5 separate regions of the Homo sapiens genome follow, and all the other regions are linked to region 2. Evidence: fine-mapped expression QTL. A gene starts in region 2. Each other region holds a variant in brackets. All regions are shown on one strand. Distances are from middle to middle. Region 1 overlaps LINC00237 (long intergenic non-protein coding RNA 237). Region 2 holds the start of KIZ (kizuna centrosomal protein). Region 3 overlaps KIZ (kizuna centrosomal protein). Region 4 overlaps KIZ (kizuna centrosomal protein). Region 5 overlaps KIZ (kizuna centrosomal protein).

Region 1 (5,105 bases), 27 kb after region 2:
AGCTGGCGGCCGCGGACTGCGTCCCTGGGGACACTGGAGGGGACTCCAGGGACAGCGTGGGTGGGCCTTTCCCCCGCACGCGCCTCTGTCACTCTCTTTCCGGGCCAGAGCCGGGGCAGCGCTCTAAATTAAGGTCGACCTCCAGCGCTGGGTGAAGTCTTGAGTCCGCCCGGGAGCCCTAGGTGAGGGTGGTCGCGGTTTGGCGGGGGCTAGCGGGTCAGCCCCTATTTCTGCCCCCACCCCGATTGCCTCTCGATGTCGGCCCCCGCGCTCCCTCCCTCGCCGGCGCTCCCTCCCTCGCTCGCGCTCCCTGTACGTCGCCGCGTTTACCAGCGCGTTTTGTTCCCCTGTCGGATTCCCGGCCGAGGGGCTGTAACCGTGTTCTCCTCCGATGGACGCTAATCAAGTAATTTCCCCATCCCAGCCCCATCAAATTGCTCTTTAGCTGTTGAACCGCGGAGTTTTGCTCGCCTTTTCACATGCTAATCACGCCCATTCAGCGGCTCTCGGTGGGGCTGTTTGTCGCGGGATAAATCTCCTTGTTTGCCCGCTGCATGATTAATTGATATTGTTGTCTGGCTTTTGTGGGGACTGCGAGGAGCTGAAAGGCGGCGCGTCGTGGCTGCGCCGGGGCCGCTAGCGACATCATCGGGCTGCCGAGGTCCCGGCGAGGTCGGGCCGGGGCTGATGACATTATGGGCCCGATTTGGTTTTCCTTGTTAGAAACATGATGAAAGACTTGGAAACCTCCTGTCTTACAACCCACCAACTGGGTGCAGAAACCGCCCGGCGTTTAAGCCACAAGCTCAGACAAAGCCCTGGTGTTTGCTCAATTCAGGGGAAAAAGTGGGTGTCACTTCTCCACGCAGGAGACAATTAAATCTTATTTCGGCCCACCCGGGATTTCAACAGAGTTGAACATGAACGCACAGCATAGTGGTTTGGTTTTACAAAGAACAAAAAGAAAAAAAAAATGTTTTTGGGGTTAGCGGTTGTAAAAGCAGGAACCAAAGGTTAAAACTCCTAAAAAATAAGTAAACGGAAGCCAGAGCCTCCCTTGTAGGCAGCGGTGGAGGAAAGTTGCGCAGAGGCGCTTCCACGCCGGGCCCCTAGCGATGCAGTTTGCGGAAACGCCACTCCCTTCGAATCGCCGGCTTCGGTGAAACCCCGGGCTAACGCTGGGCTCGCGCGATTCCCAAGGCCCGCGTCCGTCTACAAGCCAATGTTTTATTTGACATTACTGGTCCCGGCTCGTGGCTGTATTTTGCCGCCGCCCGCAGGTGTACAGTCAAACCAACAGATTCCTCCGCCCCCTGTACCCCTCCCACCCTCTCCGCTGAGCACTGGGGTTTTATCCTCTACGGGCATCCCTAAAAACTTGAAGATTCAATTAAATAATTCCAGCTACGAAGTGCTACTACCGCCTGCTTATTGCAAATATTTCCTTTTTCGAGTTCTTAAAAAAGAAAAAAAAGCGAAGAGAAGAAACTGTCGCTTTCGCTTTCACTGCGGGCGGGGTAATTGATAGGCGCCATCGGAGGTCAGAATTTGCATAAGAATTAAGAGCAGTAAATTAATTTAATATTCCATGCACATCTCCAATTATTCCTGGAGACCTTTGTCTCCGCGGCTGCCAGAGAGGGGATTCAGCTGCTCTTCAGCCAAACAACATCTGTGCGGTTAATAATTTGATAAACAGCTCATACAGATAGTTTCTGAATTATCTGGCAGCCCAATGACTATTCAGTTTGGAAACGTTTTGGCAGTGTCTCCCGGAGTCCTCTGAGAGCCTCAAGCACCCGCCCTGACAAATGTCTTCTTATCTTTTAAACATCAGCAGACGACAACGTGTAAAATAAGTAATTATCATTAAGTAATAACTCTAACCCTTATATATATAAAAAAAGAAGGGCGCCTGGGTCATCAGGGTGTCAGCAGGTCGTCTGTCAGGTACCCCAAGATGAAGAAATATGTTGGGGAGTGGGGCTGGGTGAAGAATGACCTGAAGGGGAAGAGAAGACCTGGGTGCTGGGAGGGGCTGGATGGGGATAGGGAGCTGTGTTTTTAAAGATCATGGATTGAAATTGAGTGACAATTCGCGCATGGAAATATCTGCAAGGAAGGCTCACAGTTGCCACTTGAAAGGAACCAAGGTAGGTGGGCTACAGGGAGACCAACTTTCCACTGTGCTGTTTCTTGAATCTTTCACTTTTCTCCCCACGTGC[GCA/A]GGTGTTGTTTATTTCAAATATAAATACATAAAAATAAATTGCGTTTACCAGAAAGCAGGGTAAATTATTTTGGCTGGATATTGTCCTGCCTGGCTCGGGGCTATCCTCCTCCTGACCACTGTCCTTCCTATCTTCACCTTCAGCCAGTGCACTCGCATCCTGAAAGCAACTTCCCAGAAAGCACAGGTTTATCCAAAACCATGGAGAGGGCACACATCCTTTCACAGATTTAGCCAAAGCACTGAGTTGGCCCAAACTGGAAAGGAGGCACTTGTAGAATGAGGCTGCTGTGTTGTTAAAACAGGCCTGAATTTAAACACTTACCCCTTGCTCTTCTTGTCTCTACACTAAAGATTTCATGGCTGCGATTATGTTCTTTTATCTTTCTGTTACCCAGAGCAGAACCTGTTCCTGATAAAAAGCCTAGAAAGGAACCATTTGATCTTGAATGAGACTCGGGATGCTCTAATTCGTGCAACCTGCACATTGCAGCTCTGTTTACTCCAAGCCTGTGTTTACCCTGGAATTGTTCTGCACCCTCTGCAATATAATAGGATGTTCGAGGAGGATCTTTATCTCTCTGTCTATACATTCCCACATGTTTGATGTATACACCTCACCCATTCAATATTCTACTTTCTATTTCCTATACTGCTGACAATCTAAGTACTTGAAGCCACTGAAAACTACCTAGAAGTTCTGAGGAGTGTCAAAGCAGTAACATGCTAGAGCTTTGTCCTGGTACTCTAATGAGCCCAGGTAGCATTGAGCTTTAAATACAGGCAAGCCCTTCAGACTACAGGTTTAAATATACAACTTTACAATGAATACAATGCTTGCCTGGGCTCAATTGAAGAATTACTTTTCCAGAAAAGAAGTCATTGTGTCACAAGAGTATGACAATAGCATTTCTACCGGGCACATTCATTTCTATTTTCAACATTTTCTTCTTGCATTTCATTAGTTTTTTTCCCCATAGAGCTATAGACACTGCTGGGCCATGCAGGCTTTTATACATATAAAAATGATCTCTGCTATTTATGATTGGGGGTCTCTGTCTGCATCCTATTATTAATTTCTGACTTTGATTCAGACTCCTCTAGTCAGCAGAGTGATTTGAAAACATTTCTTTTCTTAAATGGAACATTTTCAATCCTTTGGGGAACCATGCTAATTTTAAACACCAACATATTCAGTTTCTTAATCTGCAGCCACTGGTGTTGCTCATTTTTATATACAGAACCTATCCCCTTTGGCGCTAGTTCATTTATGCTTGATATTTATCTTCTTTACATTTGTTTGACTATTTTTCAAGGCAGTATATGGGCAGGAAATGGCTACTAAACAAGAAGGCAGGGAGCTTGTATTATATTTTTGACTATGTCAGTAAAGCTACAGAACATGGAAATGTTGAGAATTTTTTTTTAAACTAATGAGCCCTCTCCAGAAAAGCCGTCTGGATACCATTAAAGTTGATGAGTTTGGAAGGCTTATCCTGATAAATGCTTGGCTTTTTTGGTGATTAGACACATATTTTCAACACAGTCTACTAACTGAGACTGAGGTTTGCATTTGGAGAGAGGTTTGTTGAGCATAACAGGAAATTGTTGGGGGGAAAAATCCAAAGTACCACTTTACTGTATAGGGTTCAAATCAGAGGTAACTGCTACTCTTGTTCACTTGCACAAAAATATTAGAAATATAATAATGAGTTGTGTCCAATAACTTAAATGAAATAAACCTTGGTAATTTTCAACCTACATGTAAAAAAATATACACCTTATATCTTGGGAAAAGTTAAAGAATGGTTAAGGCAGAATAACGATTTTAAAATTTAGTACAATCTCTATGGAGCATAAAGGATTTTTTTTTTAAATTGACATAAAAGAACAGTGCAGAGCCATTTAACAAATTTTTCCAATAAACAATTCATTTGCTTTCATTGCCCCCTTTTTTTAATGACCATTTGTACATTGGCCAACTTAACCCCAAATCCAGTCAAAAAGTGAATTTGAAAAATTCAGGTTAGCATGTAAAAGTTATGAATAGGATCCGCTTAGATAAACCTGTCACCTTTCATTTTCTTCTATTTTAATGTATAAATGAGCTGTGCTGGGTGGGCTTAACCTTCTAGCATTTCCATCTGTGATACAGAGTTCCAAAAGAAACAGCTTTGTCGGCCTGTGGATAATTGGAAGCTACAGAAGCAAGTTCAGGTTCTTCAGAGATGACTGCAAAATATCTCTGATATCCATAGATTTCAGCTAGCCCCGTGGTTCTTTCCTCTCCCTCTCCTGGCTAGGATTCCAATCCGACAGGTTGAGTGTCACATAGGGGTGCCCTTCCCATCATTGTTGATTTGTGTGGTTTGTATGGTTTCTAAGACATTGTTTTGGTGTTTGTCAGTAAAGTAACAGGTGCATCTAAAAATCTGTACCACGGGGCTACATGGGCTAGCAGTGAGGCTGGCTGGCTCTGTTTGAAAGCATAGGGCCTTATGCTATTTGCTTTGGCCACAAAGTCCAATCTAGCAACCTCATGTAGGCTGAGCCTGAGAGGGCCTCCAACGGCTTATTCTGCTTTGCTGCTTCTGTGATGAGGGGAGATGAACCTTGCAGAATACCAGACTCTTCAGCATGACATTTGAGCCCTGTTGCAGTCTGGCTGGAATCCAAGTGAGGGGAGTAAGGAAAAAAATAGTGTGCAGAAAGGCTTATAGTTCCACTTGTCCACTAACTAGCTATAGGCACTTTGGCAACAAACTAATCTTCCAGGGTCGGAGACTCCTGTCTGCCACTCGTCATCATTTATTCTATTCTCACTGGGCACACGGCTGACCAGCTGAACTACATTTCCCAGCCTCCCTTGCAGCGACAC
Region 2 (5,105 bases):
TTAAATCTCTATTCAGAATCTTTGAAATACCCATCCCTGGGATGCTTACCCATAGTTCATGTTTTCAGTCACCCCTCACTTGGACCTTTCAGTTTTACACAGCTAAGTGGTCCTTATCTTGCTGAGTTTTCTACTTTTAAGCCACTTGTTATTCTGTTTTTGTCTCGATACCACAATTCTATACCATCTTCAGCTTACTCTACTAATATCTCAGTGTCAGTTTCTAGACTATTATGATATCTTACTCTGAATCAATATAGGCACTGAAAAAACCGCGGCTGGCTAATGGGCCCTTTTAAAAGGATGTTTTTGTATAACCGTAAGAGCCAATTCCACTTATAAGTTTCTACCATGCTTGTGGGTGCTATACACACTGTAACAAGTCACTCCATTAGACTCTTTTAGATTCAATTATTGACTTTCACCACAATGCAGAAAAAACACTGTACACACATAGGAAAACATTCAGACGATAAAATTACATCTACGTGTAACTACAGCTAACATGACTTGGGCTGGAAATATGCTGGTTATTTGACCAGCTAACATTGCAATGACCACCTCTAAAAGGGCTGAGAAAGAGGGAGTTTTTTTTTGTCTCCCACTTCCCAGAAGTTTCTGGATTGATAAAGCAGCTGTGACTACCCAGGGTTGCTCCCTATGAAATGACTCAGGAATTTTAGGAGACAGTGGTATCTGTGATCAGTGGGATGCTTTGTGTTTCTTTGTTTAAAAAGGTACAACCAAGGCCGGGTGCAGTGGCTCACACCTGTAATCCCAACACTTTGGAAGGCAGAGGCAGGCAGATCACCTGAGGTCAGGGGTTCGAGATCAGCCTGGCCAACATGGTGAAACCCCATCTCCACTAAAAATACAAAAATTAGCTGGGGTTGGTGGTGGGCGCCTGTAATCCCAGCTACTAGGGAGGCTGAGGCAGGACAATCGCTTGAACCTGGGAGGTGGGGGTTGCAGTGAGCTGAGATCATGCCATTGCACTCCAGCCTGGGTGACAGAGTGAGACTATGTTTCAAACAAATAAACAAACAAACAAAAAGGTACATCCAAACACTCAAATTGGATACAGACAATAATATTCTTTACACATTGCTTTGCAAAACTACAGCTTTCAGCTTTTTTTTCTTTTTTTACTTTAAGGCCCATTATTCTAGCAAAGAGAGAAAGAAAAAAATCTGTGGCCTTACTTTGCATATTAGTCAAGCCCCCTCATTCCTGGTAAAGAACCAAGGTTCAGAGAGGTGGAACAACCTGCTCAAGGTCACACAATTGTTCGTGGACTAGAATCCAGGTTTTGATATTTCTACTGCAGCCTTTTCTGTATCTAGAATTATTTGCCTCTATAACTGTGTCCAGTGTGCATTAATTTGAGTTAGTTATAAATTCTTAAAATGAAAAATGAACACACACAGCAACAGATTTGTACTGACTTAAAAATAAAACAAATCTCGAAATGCAGAACCGTGAACAGGCTATAAAATTTGATTCACATTCCTTATATATTTTCAACAGCCTCACCTTGTTTAATAATTAAATAAGTGTTAATCATAAAGTACATAATTATTATACAGTTATTGTGCCATAAGGACTATAAACAGCCAGGTGTTCCTAGCACAGGAAACAAAAATAACTTACAATTAATAGTTCAAAAAGAATGCCATTTATGAGTGCTGTAAGAATGCCAAGAGTCACAAAAGTTAGGGAATGGGTTGAAACAGGGAAGGCTCTACAGGAAGAGATTTCTTTTTAAAGTCAGAAATTAAGAGGTCACTGATATGGGTGAGCGGTGACATGTCAGAAAGAAAATAGGACGTAGAAAAGGAGTACAAGGTAAAAAAAATGCTAACGACAATTAAGGAAGCCTGTTGTAGATGCTCTATAAATATCTGACAAGAATTAAATCTAGCGTAAGATAAATGTAATTCCTTTTCAAAATCGCTCACTTCTGCCTTTATTTTCCATGTAATTATTGTTATCATTTTAGCACTGTCACGCACACAGCTCTCCTGTTCACTAGAATGATTTTGTAACTTTTAACACTCATTAAATGTTTTGTTTATCAAGAGATCCAAAAATGTATTTCCTTTCTTGTCAACTAATGAGAGTTACAACTCCAATTAACTTAGCAGCTAAATAAGAGGTCCAGCAATTTATCTTTTACGTGGTTATTCATAGTACATTGCGGTATAATTTTCTCTCTATATGCACTCTTAGATCTAGCTGTTTTCAGTGGTTCCCATCTTTCATATCTTAATCAAAGGCATCATGAACCCTCTGGAAGCTGGACTTCTCTAGCTGGAAATTTCATCCCTTCGCTGGAAATCTAGCCAGCCCTCGCTACCCCTAAAAGTCTCCTGAGTTTAAACGGGGGCACATGTTTGACACACACACACACAACCGTCTGCGTTCCAGGACTTGTCATCATTGATGCAGTGCAGCTGTCACGGCGGGATGGCAATTTGAAGAGAGTGGGGAGGGGGCGTGTAAAAGGGGACAAGAGAAACTCACAAGGCTTGATGGAGAGTGACAGGCAGAAGAACTCCCACCTTCACTTCTGGGCAAATTCTGTGACGCGGCCGCATCCTCAAACCGTAGACCAGGCTTTAGCTGCTATTGACGGGGCGGGGGCGGTCTCTCACCTCTCTCCGCTCCCACCCCCAATACAGGGGGTGGCTCTAGTAAACACTGTCCTCCAGGCCCCACTGGGAGCCTGGGGGGCGTTGCGCGCGGGCCTGGGCCCCGGGGAACCTCGGACGGGGGAGCGGGAAGGAAAATGGGGCAGGGCACGCGGAAGACCCCCGGCGCGGGCCGACTCCCCACCCCCGCCCCAGTGCCCTTACCTGTCCCGCAGCCCGTGCTGGAGTTGGCCCAGCCTCTCGTAGTAGTCGGGACTCGACAGGGGCACGGCCGATGCGAGGGTCCGGCTCATGCTGCTGCCGCTGCGCCAGCTCAGCACAGCCTCTGGGTGGCCGTTCGGCCGGGGTTGCCGAAGGAGACCGCCCCACCATGCACCGCGGGTAAACACCGCGCCGGGCCGCCTGCAGGAGGCGGGGCAAGACGCCGTGGGGGCGGGGCGCCGCTGAGGGACGGGGCGGAAGCCGGCTTTGTGGGGGGCGGGACGAAGACCTGCATGGGGCGGGGAAGAGGCGTGGCAGAGGCGGGGCGTCGTGAGGCCGGGGCGGACCACGTCGGAGGGGCGGGCGCTCGGTGCCCTCTCCTCTCTCCCTTGACGCGGTGTCTCCTTTCCCCTCACCTTCCAGGATTCGCACAAGCTACGTTAATGTTACAAGGCGCATTCCCTCCCTTTCTTTCGTCTCTCGCTTGCTTCTTTTCCTCGATCTCCTTTCTTGCCAGGATTTGTTGAGTGCCAGGCACTGTACTAAGCTTGTTCTATTATATCAGCACTCAAAAGCGACACAAAACACCAAGTAAAAAAAGACAAACCCTCAAATGCTAAACAGCCGTGCTCAGCCCCGACAGTGGACCAACCCCTTACTCGAAAATCCGTGCTGAATCTAAGGATTGTTCCAGGTGCCAGTATCGTTGGCGAGAGGGAAAAGTTGATAACTAGTTGCTTGGGAAGCAGACGTTTGTGCAGACAGCTCTAAGGGACAATGCTCCTAATGTCCTGTAGGATCCTCTAGCAGGAGCCCGGGAGCCAGACTGCCTGGGTGTACATTCCCTATCCACGTCCCAGCTGCCAAGCCGTGTGCAAGTCACCCCAGGTTTCCTCATATGTAAAGTGGGAGGCTGTTAACACAGGATTAGTTTAGGATTCGATTGTTAATATGTGTTAGTGTTTATAAGTGGGCCCAGCACATAGAAAGCATCAGGTTTTATTATCATCACCAACGTCGGGAAAAAGCTTCCTGAAGGAAGCCAACCATATTTCAAAACCCACTGGGCAGAAAAATTAAGCCTTAGCCTGCTTCTCTGCCTTCCTTTCCTTTTTTTTTTTTTTTTTTTTGAGACAGAGTCTCACTCTGTTGCCCAGGCTGGAGTGCAGTGGCGTGATCTCGGCTCACTGCAAGCTCTGCCTCCCGGGTTCAAAAGATTCTCGTGCCTCAGCCTCCTGAATAACTGGGATTACAGGTGTGCGCTACCACACCCAGATAATTTTTGTTTTTTTTGGTATTTTTTATATTTTAAGGAGAGACGGGGTTTCACCATGTTGGCCAGGCTGGTCTTGAACTCCCAACCTCAGGTGATCCACCCACCTTGGCCTCCCAAAGTGTTAGGATTACTTGCATGAGCCACCATGCCCGGCCTGTAGAGTTTCTTTAGTCTCTTATTGTTCACTTCTTTTGGTTTCTTTCCTATGCCATTAATTTTACTTACACATACAAGGTGCAAGGTGTGACAAACTAAAATTGTAAGAGAGATGGAACACTCAAAGGCCAACAACACAAAACTATGATTTTACTCAGCCTTCCATTCACATTTGCCAGTTCCAGGGCAAGAGTGTGAATGGAGGCCCTCATACCATCCGCCTAAATATTGAATTATAATTCAAGATAACAAACTTAGGTAAAATACGTGTTCTCCTCTCCACTTTGACCAATATGCCTTCTTAAGAACCTGGACAACCAGGGTGGAATTTAGTTTGCCTGCTTCTCCAGCTCCCCCCAACTCCATTTCCCACCCCAGGCTCAGTCTTGCTTTGTGAGGGGGTCTCATACACTAGCAGGGATGTGTGTGCCCTGCCTCTTCTCCTCCTCTTCTCCAGCCAGCAAGTCCCAACTCTGCCTACATCCCCACCTCAGCCTCCTCTTGGCCGGGCAGTGAGCATGCCAGTGATGGTCACCCTTGCAGGAAAGACCCAGCCAAGAGGCCTTTTAAAGCCTTAGAAAGCAGCTTGGGCCCCTTTGAGCAGGGAAGGTAAGGGTGTTGGGTACTTAGAACGTGTTCTAGAAGAGCATGTGTGTGTATGTGTGTGAGCACCCCAGGTGGGCCTGTCATCTGGCCCTGGGACCTCCTTGCCTTGCGTGGAGCAGCATGGGCAGAGAAGGGCTAGAACAGAACCTCTAATACACAGAAGCCAGGGCAGAGGCCTTCTTGCCCTGGTCCAAGGGTAGCACTGATGTGACTTT
Region 3 (5,105 bases), 120 kb before region 2:
GGTTCTTGATCCATTTTGGTTAATTTTTGTATACAGTGTGAGGTAGGGATCCAAGATCATTCTTTGGCCATGTGGCTATCCATTTGTCCCAGCATCATTTGTTGAAATGGCTATTCTTTATCCCATTGAGTAGCAGAAATTGTTACCCTTGTCAAAAATTAATTGACTAAATGTGACAGTGTTTTTGTATTCTCAATTCTAGATACATATGAATCAACAGAGTCAATATTCCATTGATTTCTGTTTATCTAGTACCACAGTATCTCAATTACTGTAGCTTTTCAGTAAGTTTTGAAATAAGGAAATGTGAGAAATCTAACTCTATTTTTTTTTTTTTTTTTTTTTTTTTTGAGAAGGAGTCTTGCTCTGTCACCCAGGATGGAGTGCTGTGGCGTGATCTCGGCTCATTGCAACCTCTGCCTCCCAGGTTCAGGCAATTCTCCTGCCTCAGCCTCCAGAGCAGCTGTGATTATAGGTGCATGCTACCACGCCCAGCTAATTTTTGTATTTTTAGTAGAGATGGGGTTTCACCATGTTGGCCAGGCTGGTCTTGAACTCCTGACCTCAAGTGATCCACCCGCCTCGGCCTCCCAACTGTATTTCTTTTGCAAGATTGTTTTGGCTATTCTGGGCCTCTTGAATTTCCATATGAATTTAAGATCAGCTGGCTAATTTCTAACATAGAAACCACCTTGAATTTTGATGGGCATTGCATTCATCACTTTGCTTCATGATGAACTTAAAAATGAATATGCAAGTTCATATTTATGTCATAAAATTTCACTTGAATAGCAATGTAGTCCTAAGTTTTCCCATAAAACAGTGAGAAAACTTAAAAGAACATATTTATTTTGGACATCACATATTAACACAGGATTTTAGTTTGTTTAAAGACTTTATTTGAAACCAATGTCACAGCACGTTAGTCATAAAAATCATCAGAATCATCGGTGTTATGGTTTCTGGGGCGTAAAGCAGCCTCAATTTCTGAGTTACTGTCATCAGACTCATCCCAGAGGGCTGGAAAATAAAACCAGACAGTTATTTAACATTTTTGCATTCTGGTTAAGAGCTTACAAAACAGCACAGCACGGAAGGACTGGTTAAGCAGAGTGTCAGTCTGCAAAATGCATAACAGGGACACCACATGATGTACCTGACCAGACACACCCAAATGCATGTCATACTGCACAAATTACACATTGCAAAGTGTGTCCTCTGCACTGTTATGGAAAACAATTTGCAGAATACTTCCTTTTCCCTTCTGTTGTGCCCAACTCTTTATTATAGGATAGGGATTTAAGGTCAGGGTTACATGGAAGCAGGGTTCCCTGGGGTGTTGTATCAGCCTGATGCCGCCCCACCTCAGCTGCCCCTCCACTTTCATCTCCCATTCTTCTTTATGAGAGCAGAGAGGAGAAGGGAAAGACGTGGCAGAGGAATAAGCAGAGATGGTTACCCTGAGACAGGACTTTGGTCCACATCATTTACTTGAGAGGTGATCCCAGGAACCATGGGGACAGTGACACAAGGAAGACAGGAAGCCAATGAAGGGTATGATGACGAGTGGGTGCCTGGCAGTGAGTGGACAGGCAAGGCTCAGCCTGCTGGGGCCCCCTGAGAGACTGCAGAACTCTCCCCAGATTGTCCCAGTGAAGAGCAAGGGAGTGGGGTTACTGATCCACCAACTTGCCTCTGTTGGTTGAGGGTTGCTCTCAACCCAGGGCATCAACTCCCTGGTACTTTGGGCTGCCTTGTGAGGGCTGAGCACGCTCCTGCAGCCAGAGAAAGCCCTCAGGCAGAGAGACACAGCTGCTTGGTGCAGGAAGCTGTAGGCGCGTCTGTGAATTGGAGCTGAGGTGCCCTGCAGGTGGTCTGGCAAGGTGTAGTGGAGCGGACCACGTCTACTACATCAACAATCCCTTAACTCTGCTGACACCTGCATGGCACCACCTGCCAGCTCTGTGCTGACTTCTCATACACAACCCCATCTCATCCTCGCACCAGCCTGGCAAGGTAAGTATTAATGTTTCCATTTCACTGTGCAAACAAACGGACGCTGAAGGGGGTTAAGAAATTGGCCACAATCACAATGCCAGTGAGTGGCCAAGCTGGGAGTCCCATCCAAGTCATCTGACTCAAGCCCATACTCTCCATCACAACCCACTGGGTACTTGTCTCCCCCACAGTAGGTAGCTGTCCTTCTAGAAGAGTGATTCACAGTGGGGTGCTTGCTAAAAAGGCAGATTCCTAGGCCTAGGTTCTACAGCAGCTCTGAATCAGTTTCCATACTGGGTTAGCAAAGTGGGACATACTGGGGCTAAATAAACAGCGAATATTTTTGTTATTGTCAGTAAAACTATTAATCAAATTATACCTTTAATTTAAGGTATAAGGGGTTTAAGGAGACAGGAGGTGAGAGAGCCCAAGCTGGGCAGGGGATATGCCACAGTGTTATGGTAGGAGGGCTAGATTTTTCCCGTGAGTTGGGTGTTGAAGGATGAATAGGAGCTCACTGGGCTGAGGAAAAGGAAAAGGAACTCCCTACAGAAGGAACAACATGGGCAAAGGTACAGAGGCATAGGTGTGCTACAGCTGAAAAAAGCTGACTGTGGCTTGACCCAAAGAGGCGACCTTGGGAGGAATAAGCTGGAGAGCAGGGCTGGGGCCTCCCAGGAATGGAGAAAGCTCAGACT[C/T]TACCCTGAAGGTACGGGGAGGCATTGGCCGTCCTTACACAGGAAGGTCGGGGGAAGCCAGGGTTTGGAGGCTGGTGGCCAGGTGGAGGAGCTGGGAGTTCCCAGGAGCTGGGAGGAACTGGGTATGAGGAAACCAGTTAGAGTTACTCCAAGAGCCTGTCCGGTCATGAGCAATGGGTGCTTCTGAGGATGAGGAGAGAGGCAAGAAACATTTCATTGGTAAAATACAGGGTGCTGATAATTAATTAGACATGGAGGCCAGGATCCCCTGCAAATTCATACTTGCAAATTACAATGCTCTGCCCCTGTGGTCCATGGCACCCGTGTGGTCCTGTCTGTGAAGAACTGAGCCTCCAGAAGCCCTCAGGTTCCACCCCAGGGACAGCTGCAATGGCAGTCCCTGTGAGCATGCCCGCTTCAGGACTCACATGAGGGTGCAAACAACAAATGCATGTCACAGAGTTTTTTGGTTAAAACAGAAAAAGAAAATCTAGTGTCCGATTATCTCTCTCACCATTAGATTTTAAATTGATCACGGGTTTCTTTTTGTTTTCATGCCTGCAAAATAAAGAAACAGTCTAAGTTCTGAAAAAGAAAAGACAATGAGACTAATATTTTCATAATGAACGCATTAGAGAAGAAGCACTTTGATTCACTGGAGGCCAGAACTTTACACTTACTTCCCAGAGTTTAAAAGTAAAGGGAAAATATCGGGATGCAGCGTGGCCTTGTCGGGAGGGTCGCTACTCAACAGCATTGCTCCCGTCCTGCGTGTGTCCCCTCGGCAGGTCTGCATGGCCCACCCCGCCCTGCTGAGCTGTGCCTGTGTGGGGCCACGTGTTCTTGGGGGAGGATGATCGCATGTTCCCCTGAGGCAGGGGACCGGTTTCCCTCAACAGTCTTCTGGAAGACAGTGATGCATCAAACTTCAGTGCTTTCAGGCAAGCTAAAAATGAAACACTTGCAGTAGGGAATTCAAGATGTTGGTAAGGAAGTTAAAATACTTAGTCAAACCAGTGGCAGCAATACTAACAGTTAAGAAAGGAGTTCAAAACAAACACCTGGTAGAGGGCCCTGCAAGTGTCACATAAATGCTAGTGTTCGTGGCGTCCAGGACCGTCTCGACTGAGGCCAATATGACAAGAAAACTGGCTCCACGGGATATGATTTCTCTGTGTGCCTTTTCAGGAGCTTTTGCAATTTTAATGAATTTAAAAGTCTCCTCAGGGAGTGTCACTCGAATGTTTTATGATGCTGAGATTCTTTCAGAATTGCCTGAATGGTCACAGGAGATGTTGGGAGAGAAACCATTCTTGGTGCATGGCTCGACACTTTGCCCTACCCCACGCACCACCACCGCCCTTCTCACAGCCAGGGCCTTGTTCTTCTGGACACAGGAAACCCTGCAAATATATCTTTTCCTTCCCTTTGGGCCAAGTGTGGTTGACTTTTGGCTTAAAAATCTACGTTTTGCTATAATTTACTTTTTTTTTTCAGAAAAACATGCTCCACTAAGGTATCATTTTCTAGGCTACCTTTCAGTGTTCCCTTTAAATTTAGTGCCTGTTTCTTTAATTGCCATGACTGAGTAGTGCTCACAGCCATTTCTCCATGAAGCATGGAAGACCCCTACGAGCATCTGGAAAGGCCAGCAGCTGACTGACAGTCCTGGAGCTGCCAGGATTGTGGGGACCTGTCAGTGAGGTGAGCCTGCAAGAACCCATTTTACAGAAAGTGACACACACATCACACACACACTAAATGCAACTGCAGGGATGTCTATTATTTCCCCACCTCCCCCTACCTGAGGACACTGGGCTAGGTGCTGCAGGGGAGGGTGGATTATAAAAATGCTAGGAGGGGTGGAAAGAGGCTAATTTGCCAGCCGCGGTCCATACAAGAAGAGCCACAGGGGGAGCAGGAGAGATCTCTGCCAGCTGGGTGGATGGAGAGCACTGTGGCAGGTGATTGGGGGAGCTGCAGGACCACAGAGGAAGCCCGGCACCTCCAAAGGCAGAGGCCTTCACAGGACAGGACTGGGGAACAAGGTGTGGCGGGGTGGGGCAGCAGGGAGCCCCTGACACAGGAGAAAGGACACAGTGGCAGGTGAGCTCAGCTCCTCCCGTCTCAGCAAATGGCACCCCTGACCCACTAGTCTCCCCAAGCCCCTCTCCAGTCTCCACTCCTCTTTCCTTCACATCCAGTCTGGCCCTCGGTCCTGCCAATTCCACCCCCACCCCTCTCGACCCCCCTGCAATACTTCCTGCAGTCCTCACCAGTTCCCTGGGCACTGCCAGTACACTGGTCAACAAAACTATCAGCTCTTGCTTCTCTCTCTGCAACAACCTCCTAACTGGTGACACACACTCATCTTGTCCCCTACTATCCATTTTCCACTAGGCAATGAGA
Region 4 (5,105 bases), 35 kb before region 2:
CAATAAATCAAATTTCCCAATGACAGGAACCATGTCGGTTCTTCCATCCATAGTGCAAGAACTCTGTACTTGGATATGCTCTTAATAAATATTTCCTGAACATCAGTTTGGATACAATCTATCAATTAAAGCCTATTCATAAACTTTTCACCATAAGTAGACAATGAATGGTAAGAGGCAATATATTAAAAGGTACAATGGTGTTCTAAAGAGAACATATGCCGTACAAAAAGGCCCACTTGGCTTTTCACTGCTGCCAGCTTTGTGGAAATGAAAGGGTGACCAGCATTACGGTGTAACAGAAAATTCTGGGGGTGGGGCAGTGGTGTGACATTCAGGCAGACAGGCTGTGGGGTGTTCTGCCCCAGCAGATCCAGTAGACCTACGTGACACCACTCTGCCCCGGCCTTCGTTTCCTCATTTGTAAAAGGTGAGATCTACCTTAGGTTGTTTACTTAGGTTCCTTCTACCCCTAAAAGAGATTTGATGTTATTAATGCCATTTTTCAGCACAAAATCACTTTTCAACAGTTAACAAGTTTTCTACATAGTAGATACACAAGAACTTTCTACAAAGTTTTCTTCTAGCGTCTCCAATCAGTAGCACAAAAACATATACAAATTTTTATCAGTCGGATAATATAAGTTCTCAAATGTATAATGCTGATGTTCCCATTTAACATTAGAGATTCTAATGTTTCCTATTTAGATTCAAAAAAGGAAATCTGGCTTACATATACAATTAGAAGAACTTATTAACTCATATTTAATCAGATGACAAAAATGATAATATGGCAAGGAATATAAGGATTAAGCAAATTAATTAGACATAAAGTTCTCAGACTCTAATGCTGCATTCCTAGTAAGTTTAACTGTCACCTTCTGTGGTACCAAAACTTCAAAACAGATTTATTTTCTGAAAGCCTGGAGAGTAGGGGGTTGGGGAATGACTTATAAGTTAACCAGGGATTATGTGTATATAATTATAAGCTGCAATCACCATGATTCAATGATATTCAAACTTTTAAAGTTTTTTTGTCAAAGAAAGAAGGAAGGGAGGAAGGAAAGAAAGAAGAAAGAAGGACAGAAAGAAAATTAGGTCTTGCCTACAAGATTACTTATGAGACTTAAGGAATTTACACATTCATGGCTGAGTGCTCGATAATACATTCCCAGTGGAATGGTCTCTAGAAATGTCTACAATTAAAAACAGAACAGTAGAAAAAAAAAATTGAATGGCTTACTCTCTTGTTGGTGCGTTAGTGGAGGATTCCTTTTCTGAATCAGGAGAGCTTAGGGTTTGCAAAATACAATTTTTTTCAGTGGATAGGGCAACTCTTTCTTGCTCAGCATGGATTAATTTTAAGGCCTCTATTCCATCTTCTCCCTCCATCTTGCCACCTGGATTTGGCTGTGGTTCTGGGCTCTCTAAAATCAGATCATCTTCACTTATTGAAATGGTAAGGTCACTGCTGGTGCTCCAACTTTCCTCCTCCTCTTCCTGCATTTTTCTGAAGGGCTTTTGTGACTTTGGTTCCCTGTGAGCAAGATGATCTGCAAGTGGCGACATGAACTGATTACCAATCACTGACTTCAGGAGGAAGCAAGGTAACACACAGCAGAATTACTCATCAGTTAAAAACATGGAGAAGCAACCCACACACAATTCATTACGGAACTTAAAAGCTTAAACACGTTTTCAAATGTTTAAAAAAATCACAGTGGGTTTAAAAATCAGCAAATTCACTCCCATGTACATATTTAAGAGTTCATTAGAATGGAATTTGTTGGCAAAGATACTATTTTATGAAAGAGAGATAATTAGTATATTTTGTCCTTACATAAGATCACTACCACCCAGAAAAATCAGCAACCAAACTCAGCCTCTCATCCCACCTGAAACACCTTCCCAAGGAGAATGCTTCTCTTGAGACCACTTATTTTCAGATTCACAGTATTCTGAAACTGGTATCGGAGAGACTGGCGGGCTGGCTCTTTTTTCCTCAACTTCAATATGTTCCCGTGTCAGTATTTCTCCCTCTGATCCGCTGGAACTGTCACACTTTAAATCAGTGGTTCTGTTCTCTGGACTTAATCTTTCCCGTAACGGGGAATTGAGTTCAGCAGACTTTTTGCCTTCAGATAAATTACTCTTGCCATGACGTGTGTTACTTCCTATCTCCAAGCAATGAGTTTGTTCCTCCTCAGACAATACACTGGCTGTGACTGGCATTTTCTCACCAATCTGAAGAGATGCCTTTCCATCTATGTTGTCAGACTTATTTAAGCACTGTGTGTCATTACTAGTTTGTACTACACAGCTGTCTGTCACATTACTGCTCTGGGCTGTCTGTCGGTGTGAATGTGGGTCAGGAATTGAAAAGTTCTTTGTGGGCTGGGGAGATTTGTGCTCTGTACTGAAATCTCTCATGCTTAAGATGGCTGACATTTGGCGGCCCATAAAGATTGTTGCTGGTTGATACAATCCTCTTGACATGGCTGTTCCTGAGTTAATCCCCTCGTGCACTGCAACCTGCAACACCAAAAGAGATGTGAGTTAAACATACTGTGTATAAACAATTAGGTGGGGTTTTTTTTTTTTTCCAGAAATGAAAGGAGGTCAAACAAAGCATGATTATTGAAATCAGCACCTACCATGTATTATTAAACTCATGGCTTCCTACATAATGAATGAGCAAAAAGCAGTAAAGTCCATAGGATTTAATTTTAATAACAATGATAGTTCACAAAACAAATATAGTAAAGAAAGTAAGCCGGGTGTGGTGGCTCATGCCTGTAATCCCAGCACTTTGGGAGGCCAAGGTGGGCAGATCATCTGAGGTCAGGAGTTCGAGACCAGCCTGGCTGACATGGTGAAACCCCGTCTCTGCTAAAAATACAAAAATTAGCCGGGCACGGTGGCAGGTGCCTGTGATCCTAGCTATTCAGGAAGCTGAGGCAGGAGAATCACTTGAACCCGGGCAGCAGAGGCTGCAGTCAGCCGAGATCATGCCACTGCACTCCAGCCTGGAGACTCCATCTCAAAAAAAAGAAAGTATAGAA[T/C]ATGTTTTTGAAAAAAGAAATACATGCTTTGAAAAGACGTCATCAGGAAAGTGAAAATATAACCCACATAATGGGAGAAAATATTGTAAATTATGTATCTGATAAGGGTCTAGTACCCAAAATACATAAAGAAGTCATATAACTACATAATAAAAAGACAAACAGCCCTTAAAAGTGGGAAAAGGATTTGGATAGACATTTCTCCAAAGAAGATATATGAATGGCCAATAAACACATAAAATGATGCTTAATATCATTATTCATTAGAGAAACATAATTCAAAAGCACAATAAGATATCACTTTACCCACTATGATGGCTGTCTTGGTCTGTTCAGGCTGCTATAACAATACCATAAACAGTGCATAAATAACAGAAATTTGTTTCTGATAGTTCTGGAGGCTGGGAAGTCCAAGATCAAGGCAGGCGCCAGCAGACTCTGGGTCTGGTAAGGAACTGCTTTCTCTCAGACAGCATCTTTCTGCTGTGTGCTCGCAGGGTGGAAGGGGCAGGCAAATTTCCACGGGCCTCTTTTATAAAGAAACTAATCCCACCCATGAAGGCTCTGCCCCCTTGATTTAATCACTTCCCAAAGTCCTCACCCTCAAAAACCATCACCTTGGGGATTAGAATTTCAATATATGAACTTTGGGGGGGACACAAATATTCAGCCCATATCAATGGCTATACTAAGAATGACAGGTGTCTTAATTTAGGATTTTTAAGATGGAGAGTACCCCTCCAATAATTAGGAGAAATATGAGATGGAAATAAAGACATTATCACTTACAGGTTCTGGGGAGTACATGGCACACCTGGAGGCCACACACACAAACATCAGGGAGCGCAGGCAGAGAGAGAGAGAAAAGGGACCCGTGTCCTTACATGGTAGAAGCAGGGGTTGAGGGGAAGGACACATGAGCCAATGTCTTTACTGAGTCGCAGGTGTTATCCAAACAGGTTTCCCACAGGCAGCCTGGGGAGTTTTAACTGGTGAGTTTAAAGCAAGGAGGCATGAGTTCTGGGAGGTTACCCAGTGACTGAGAGGTGGTCACTGTGGCATATGGTCCATGGGGGATGCGAAGGTCAGAAGGGCCTGTCAAGCAGGCTGCATCCAGCTGTCCCATAGGGAAGTGGTCACCAGAGAGCAGCTGTGTAAGGCAGGTTATCTGGACCGACCACACTGAGGAACTGCGAAGGAGGGTGGAACTGCCAACTGTGTCAGGGGTGACTGAGTCCTGCTTCTGGTATGAGAAGGTTCAACTTAGATTTAAAATGGATGCTGAGGCAACATAAAATTATAAGAATTCACTACAACAGGCAATAACGAGTGTAGTCCAGGATGTGGAGAAATTAGAATCATACACTGCTGATGGGAATATAAAACGGTGCACCCACTTTAGAAGAGTTTGGCAGCTCCTGAAAAAGTTAAACAGAGTTACCATCTAACCAGCAATTCCATATCTAGGCAGAAGTACGGAGAGTGTAAACATATGACTACACAAAATCTTGTAAAAGGATGTGCATAGCAACATTATTTATGATAGCCAAAAGTGGAGATAACTCCAATGGCCAACATTAGATGACTAGATAAAATGTAATACATTCATACAAGAGAATAATTTTCAGCCATGAAAAGAGATGAATTACTGATACCTGTTACATCATGGATGAACTTTGAAAATATCATGCTAAATGAGAAGCCAGTCATAAAAGACCATATACTGTAAGATCTCATTTATAGAAAATGTTCAGAATAGGCAAATTTTTAGAGACAGGAAGTAGTTAACTGTTTGCCCCAGGCTGGGGACCGAAGGGCTGGGGTGGGTGGTGGGGAGTAGAAGGAATCGGGGGGAGGTAAACAGTGATTCCCAACAGGTATGGGGTTTCTTTTTCAGGAATGAAAGTATGCTAACATTGATTGTGATTATGGCTGCGCAACTCTGAATATAATAAAAACTATAAAGCTATCACAAAAAAAGAAAATGAACAAATGAATAAAAAATCCTTAGAAAAGAAATTAAGTTATGCAGCTAATCTGAGA
Region 5 (5,105 bases), 20 kb before region 2:
CTGCCTGGTTGTGTAGTTTTCGGCAAGTTAACTAAATTTTCTGAGCCTTACTATAAAATGGGGACAACAATATCCTCTACTTCCAGGGTTGTTGAGAAGATTAAATGAGTTGATACACATAAAGTGTTAACGCAGCACCTAGCAAAGTAAAAGTGCAGTGATTATTACCCATTGTTACTACCAGTATTAAAAGTGGGAATAACACCTTTATAACCATTCTCCCACCTGATCCTTGCAGGGAGGGTTACCACAGTGGAAGTGAAGCTCCTCAACAAGCCTTCAGCTCTGTGATGAAATTCCCTGGTCCTCCACACCTATCCATCCCTGACAGAGTATGATCAGTTTGCTTCTATTTCTAGTAGAATATATTTCACAGCATAATAGTTCAAAGAAACCTTACAACCCTATCCCCAAATGTATACTGTCATTCAAAAACGCCATCTCAATCTTTCTTGAGGACATACATTTTTATGTGTTTTTATGTATATTCTCTAGTCACCGTTCTTCAACCAGAAGAACATGTCTGGAAACAGAGTTTGCCCCCAAAATAAAAAATAACAATATATATAATAGAGGTGAAGAATTACTATAGTAAAATTTGTGAGGATCTGAGTGGGGCTTGAAATGTGCCTTTTTGGTAAGACACATTTTTTGTAAGCTGACTAAGTAAATTAATAGTGGAAACAAGCATGGCAGATGAACAGACTAACTATTAATCCTTCTAAGCGAATGTATGATTCTAAAGAGCAACTACTGGATGCAAGCAAATAATAGATGTCCTACACCAAAACTGAGCCAGAGTTTTTATATTTAAAAAATGGACACACACCACTTGATGACTTTTCTTGGCATCCAAGTTACTGCCTATGGTTGAAAGCTGTATAGCCACTTAAAAAATACCTTTTTATAATTCAGAATGATCACCAATTTGATAGATCCTCTCCCCTTTGTTAGTGTTTTCCACCTCAATGGCCATCCCCAATACAGGTCCTCCATTCTGTTAATTCCTCCTGTCTGAATGGAGCCTGATTTCCTCAGTTCCACGTACTCCTCCCCAGGCTCATCCTGCACAGCACTGCCAGCCTCATCTTCCCGCAGCTGCACACATGGGATGTGACTGCTCTGCTCACAAGTCCTTCCTTCATCTGCTGCCACACACACACACACACACACACACACACACACAAATTCCAGGAGGAAATCTCAGTTCTTAGCCTGGGACCATAGTTCCAGGTACCAAATCCCACAAGGTAGCTTTCCAAGCTCATTTTCTACCACTGACTGGCATCCTGCACATCCTTCTATGCCAGCTCACACACCACCTCCTCCACCAGGGCTGGGATTACTCAATTCACAGGAAGCAGAATCTTCTTTCTTCTCATTGCTCATGTTTGTCCCACGTGACTGGCACTTTATCACACACTATTCTGTGCCTTAGAAAGAACATTGCTTTCTGAGAAGCACTCTGAAGGTAAGAAAATTGTGGCCTTCATAGAGGGGCCTACTGTTGCTTCTCAAAGAGAACTGATGCTTAACAACTATTTATTGATTCAACCAGTGACTGTACTATGCTTCAGGAAAGGCCCTGGAGGTCAATGACCAAGACCAATTCATATGACTGCCCAAAGAAGAGAAGCTTGGATTTCCACTAAACAATAAGCTATAACTCATATGATAAGGAATGGTTCAGGAATTAGTATAAGGATTAACTAAAACATGATTTTGCTGAAATGTATTTACCTTTTAATTGGTTGAACATCAATGGAAAATTAGAAAATGCAAAATATAAATTTCTCAAAGTGTTACCTAATCGATTCTTATACAGCCAATAGTCAAAGCTTTTAAGGAAATGACACCTTTCCATATAAATGAAAAGACTTCTAATTATTATATGTAACATTTTAAGGGGTTGTCAACTGTATGTCTCTTGCCCTAATTTTAAATATGTCCTAAAAGGAGACTCCACAACTACATGCAAGGTAAAGAATCAGTGGGTAAATAAAGAAAAAAAAAGCTTCCGTTTTCCTGAAGTACCATTGACACTGCCGTGCTAAGAATATGTCTATCAAGAATGGCATAGAAAGAACTAACTGGCTTCTAGATTAAAACACATCAATTATTTCATGACCGAATATCAAATAGAAAAACTGCCTGAATGCTCTAAAATTCTATCACATCATACCACATTTGGCCTACATCGAATGGCATATACGTCATTTATCATTAAAGCCTTTTTATATAGGTCAAGGTTGCTGGGGCTTGGTGTTTTGTATCTTACAGTTTAAAGAATGCTCTAAGTTCTAGGGTTTTTTTTTTAATTTTTTAATCTATGAGGAAGGAAAACGAAAACTTCCTATAAACTCAGATTAATGCCTGCTAATGCACGGAAGAAAGAAAAACTAAAACCTTCCTCCTACTATAAAAACAAAATAGTGTGGCCTCTGTTTCTTTTCTGATAAGAGTCTTAAATACCCAACAGTTAACTGCATAATAACATTTACTGGCAGCCAGGCAGCCTGCTTAGCAGATATATAAAGCAGGTAAAAGGAGAAAAAGTTAATTTCTTGGCTGAATGATTCCATCGGTAGCTATAGGGCAAACCTGAAAGTCTTTTAGTAAAGTAGCAGTTGATTCTTCT[A/G]TCAATCTGTAGCACACACACTCTTCCAAGGAAAGCATTAAATATGAAAATCATATCCCGTTATCATCTGTTTCCAGCTTTCAGCCCAGTAAGCTTTTCTTAATGAATGCTGCAGCCTAAGGAACAAGCACGCTGTTGGCTTTTCTGAATAATGGAGTGATGCTACCATTTTTGCTTATTACAATATCGACTGGCTGAGGGGGTTTCACACATAGTCACAAGTGACTACTCTTGCCAGCATGCTCCAAGTTATTACAAGATGTTTTTAGACATTTCATCTAAAAGAGCTTTACTGCTTTTAGTGAAGAAAACATCTACGGTCTTGAACAGAATCATTTATATGGAGATAGGCAGGAGGATTAGAAGCCTGCATTATAGCAGATACATAGCAGAATTTATTTAAGTATTCCTTGTCGATCTTTTTGTCTATTGCTTAGATATGCAATCTTTTCTTTCCACGTTTTCTGTGCAAAGGTTAAAATGTACAAAATTATGTATATTCGCACAAATAAAAGAATCAAAATGCCATATTTTGTTTACTTTTCATTTAAAACACTTCTCAAACTAAGAAAAGAGCAGCTACAAGGCATGATTTAGAAAAACAATTTTACCTACTGACAACACTGAGGTTTTCTTTAGAGTCTATCCTTTCTTCACAAAGTAACACCCTTTCAGCAAACTTAATTAAATTAGACATTAAAGCAATATTCTGTAAGCAAAAATCTTTAAATAATCACGTAAGGTTTAATCAAAGGGATCTTCCTAATAAGATGATTTTATTTAAAACAATATCTCAAGATATAAACACTCCAGAATTCCTCTGTTAACAGAAAGGTTACCAATTTAGTTTATTACCTTTTCTCTGTCTTCATCTGTCAGTTCCTCTTTTAGTCCCAGGCTATCTTTTGAGCATAGCATCTTCTTAATTTGAGTCTCATATTCGAGCTAAATATAAAGAAAGTTTGATTTTGTGATAAATATTTTTACAACTAGCACCTGTCTGTATACTGCGGTCTTTACAACATACAGGGAGCATTGAAGTAGAAAGTAAAAGCTGATGTTGCCAAGAAATTCACCTTATCTTAGAAAATGAACAATTTTGCAAATGACACATATCAAAAGTTGAATTTTACAAAATGCTACAATTTTTAAATAAAATAAGATTTGATGGATTTTTACTTTCATCAACTTAGGAAATAAAATCTTTATATATATACACATGTATATGTGTATATATATGTATACAGTTTGATACTTTATCACAAAAATACAATTCCTTTATTATGAAAGTAGCACATTAGACAGTGTTTCCTTTTAGAAGTTTTGCCCCAAACAAACAAAAAAAATCAATCCTACTGATTTCTTATCTATATGATATCTACAAAATATCATGATTCTGATCGTCACAGCAATTGAGCATACTTGCTAGATCATCAACTTAAAACAAATTCCATTTTCTATGAATAAAAATATACTGCAGACATCAATGATCAGAAACCAATTTGCTCTGGCACTAATAACTACATAAAGATGTCTGCATCATCACCACACTATAATTGGTGAAAGTGATTCAATCTTAAAATGGCTTTTTCTTAAAAGCAAGGCATAAAAAAGCACTTTGATTCAGTACGCTAGTAATTAAAGCCTTAAAAAAGTCATGGATTGTGGTCCATCAAAGATAAGTATCAGAACATTTTCTAAATTAGGCAGGTATGCACTGTAATTAGAAACACACCTATGAGATGAAATGAGAAAGCTGTTTCCTTAGTTCTCTGAACATAAAATAGGCCTGAGCTTTGTTTTGACATACGAAAAACAAATGGGCAATAATAACCAAACTGATTTGTTTCCCTCAAAATATTTTGAAAGGTAATATATGCTGTCTCATTTTTAGTAACAGTTAGGTATGGATTTTTTTTTCTCCAGCAGAGTACTATATGATAGATGGCAGTAATTCTCTAAATAGATACCCAATTAAATGAAAATTTTATCAGGCCAGTACAAATGATAAAATAATAAACTAGGAATAGATAAAGCAATAACAAAGATACAATTTACATCTCTCTGTTCCATATCTATTCCTCTGAACTTAGAGATGTTTACATTTTAGCCCCAAGAGCTTTAAACAGGCATCCTTTACAGATTCCAAGGGATAGTATCTCAAAAAGAAATGGGGGATGAATTACAATATAAACATATAATTACAGGTTAAATAAAAATTCTTTTTTCTTGTGACTACAAATGTTTTCTTACGCTCTTTGAGATCAATGAGCATTGTACCTGATTTCCTCATTATAGGATCATTTCAGAGCCATACCTTCCAAAGACAGAGCACTTTCTCATAGAAATATGAGAGTTTTATTCAATTCATTTTGCTGAAGGAAAAAGGAAGTGATAACTGCATAAAGTCTTCCTAAAGAACAGAAAGAAGTATCTTTAAAAGCCCAATTTAGACTGCTCTCAATGC

The links. PIP is the estimated chance that this variant, and not a neighbour inherited with it, causes the effect.
Region 1: its variant is fine-mapped to the expression of KIZ in whole blood (TOPMed, PIP above 0.99).
Region 3: its variant is fine-mapped to the expression of KIZ in whole blood (TOPMed, PIP above 0.99).
Region 4: its variant is fine-mapped to the expression of KIZ in testis (GTEx, PIP above 0.99).
Region 5: its variant is fine-mapped to the expression of KIZ in whole blood (INTERVAL, PIP 0.93).

Annotation. Positions count from the first base shown.
Region 1 is chr20:21,096,461-21,101,565 of GRCh38, reverse strand. The region is part of intron 1 of LINC00237 (long intergenic non-protein coding RNA 237); the gene reads left to right. Among named protein-coding and RNA genes, the nearest start is that of LINC00237, 7.3 kb to the left of the region's middle. RefSeq lists enhancers at 1-784, 4,984-5,105. The variant GCA/A (reference allele first, on the strand shown) is at 2,226.
Region 2 is chr20:21,123,955-21,129,059 of GRCh38, reverse strand. KIZ (kizuna centrosomal protein) reads right to left here and starts at 2,978. Exons shown (of 13, transcript NM_018474.6): 1 at 2,856-2,978. The coding sequence starts at 2,944. RefSeq lists enhancers at 2,460-2,509, 3,410-3,509 and a silencer at 2,670-3,249.
Region 3 is chr20:21,242,394-21,247,498 of GRCh38, reverse strand. KIZ (kizuna centrosomal protein) reads right to left here. Exons shown (of 13, transcript NM_018474.6): 12 at 3,211-3,254; 13 at 877-1,020. The coding sequence ends at 923. Among named protein-coding and RNA genes, the nearest start is that of KIZ-AS1, 27 kb to the right of the region's middle. The variant C/T (reference allele first, on the strand shown) is at 2,697.
Region 4 is chr20:21,159,298-21,164,402 of GRCh38, reverse strand. It overlaps KIZ (kizuna centrosomal protein), which reads right to left. Exons shown (of 13, transcript NM_018474.6): 5 at 1,896-2,532; 6 at 1,244-1,553. Among named protein-coding and RNA genes, the nearest start is that of KIZ, 36 kb to the right of the region's middle. The variant T/C (reference allele first, on the strand shown) is at 3,063.
Region 5 is chr20:21,144,043-21,149,147 of GRCh38, reverse strand. KIZ (kizuna centrosomal protein) reads right to left here. Exons shown (of 13, transcript NM_018474.6): 4 at 3,494-3,583. Among named protein-coding and RNA genes, the nearest start is that of KIZ, 21 kb to the right of the region's middle. The variant A/G (reference allele first, on the strand shown) is at 2,639.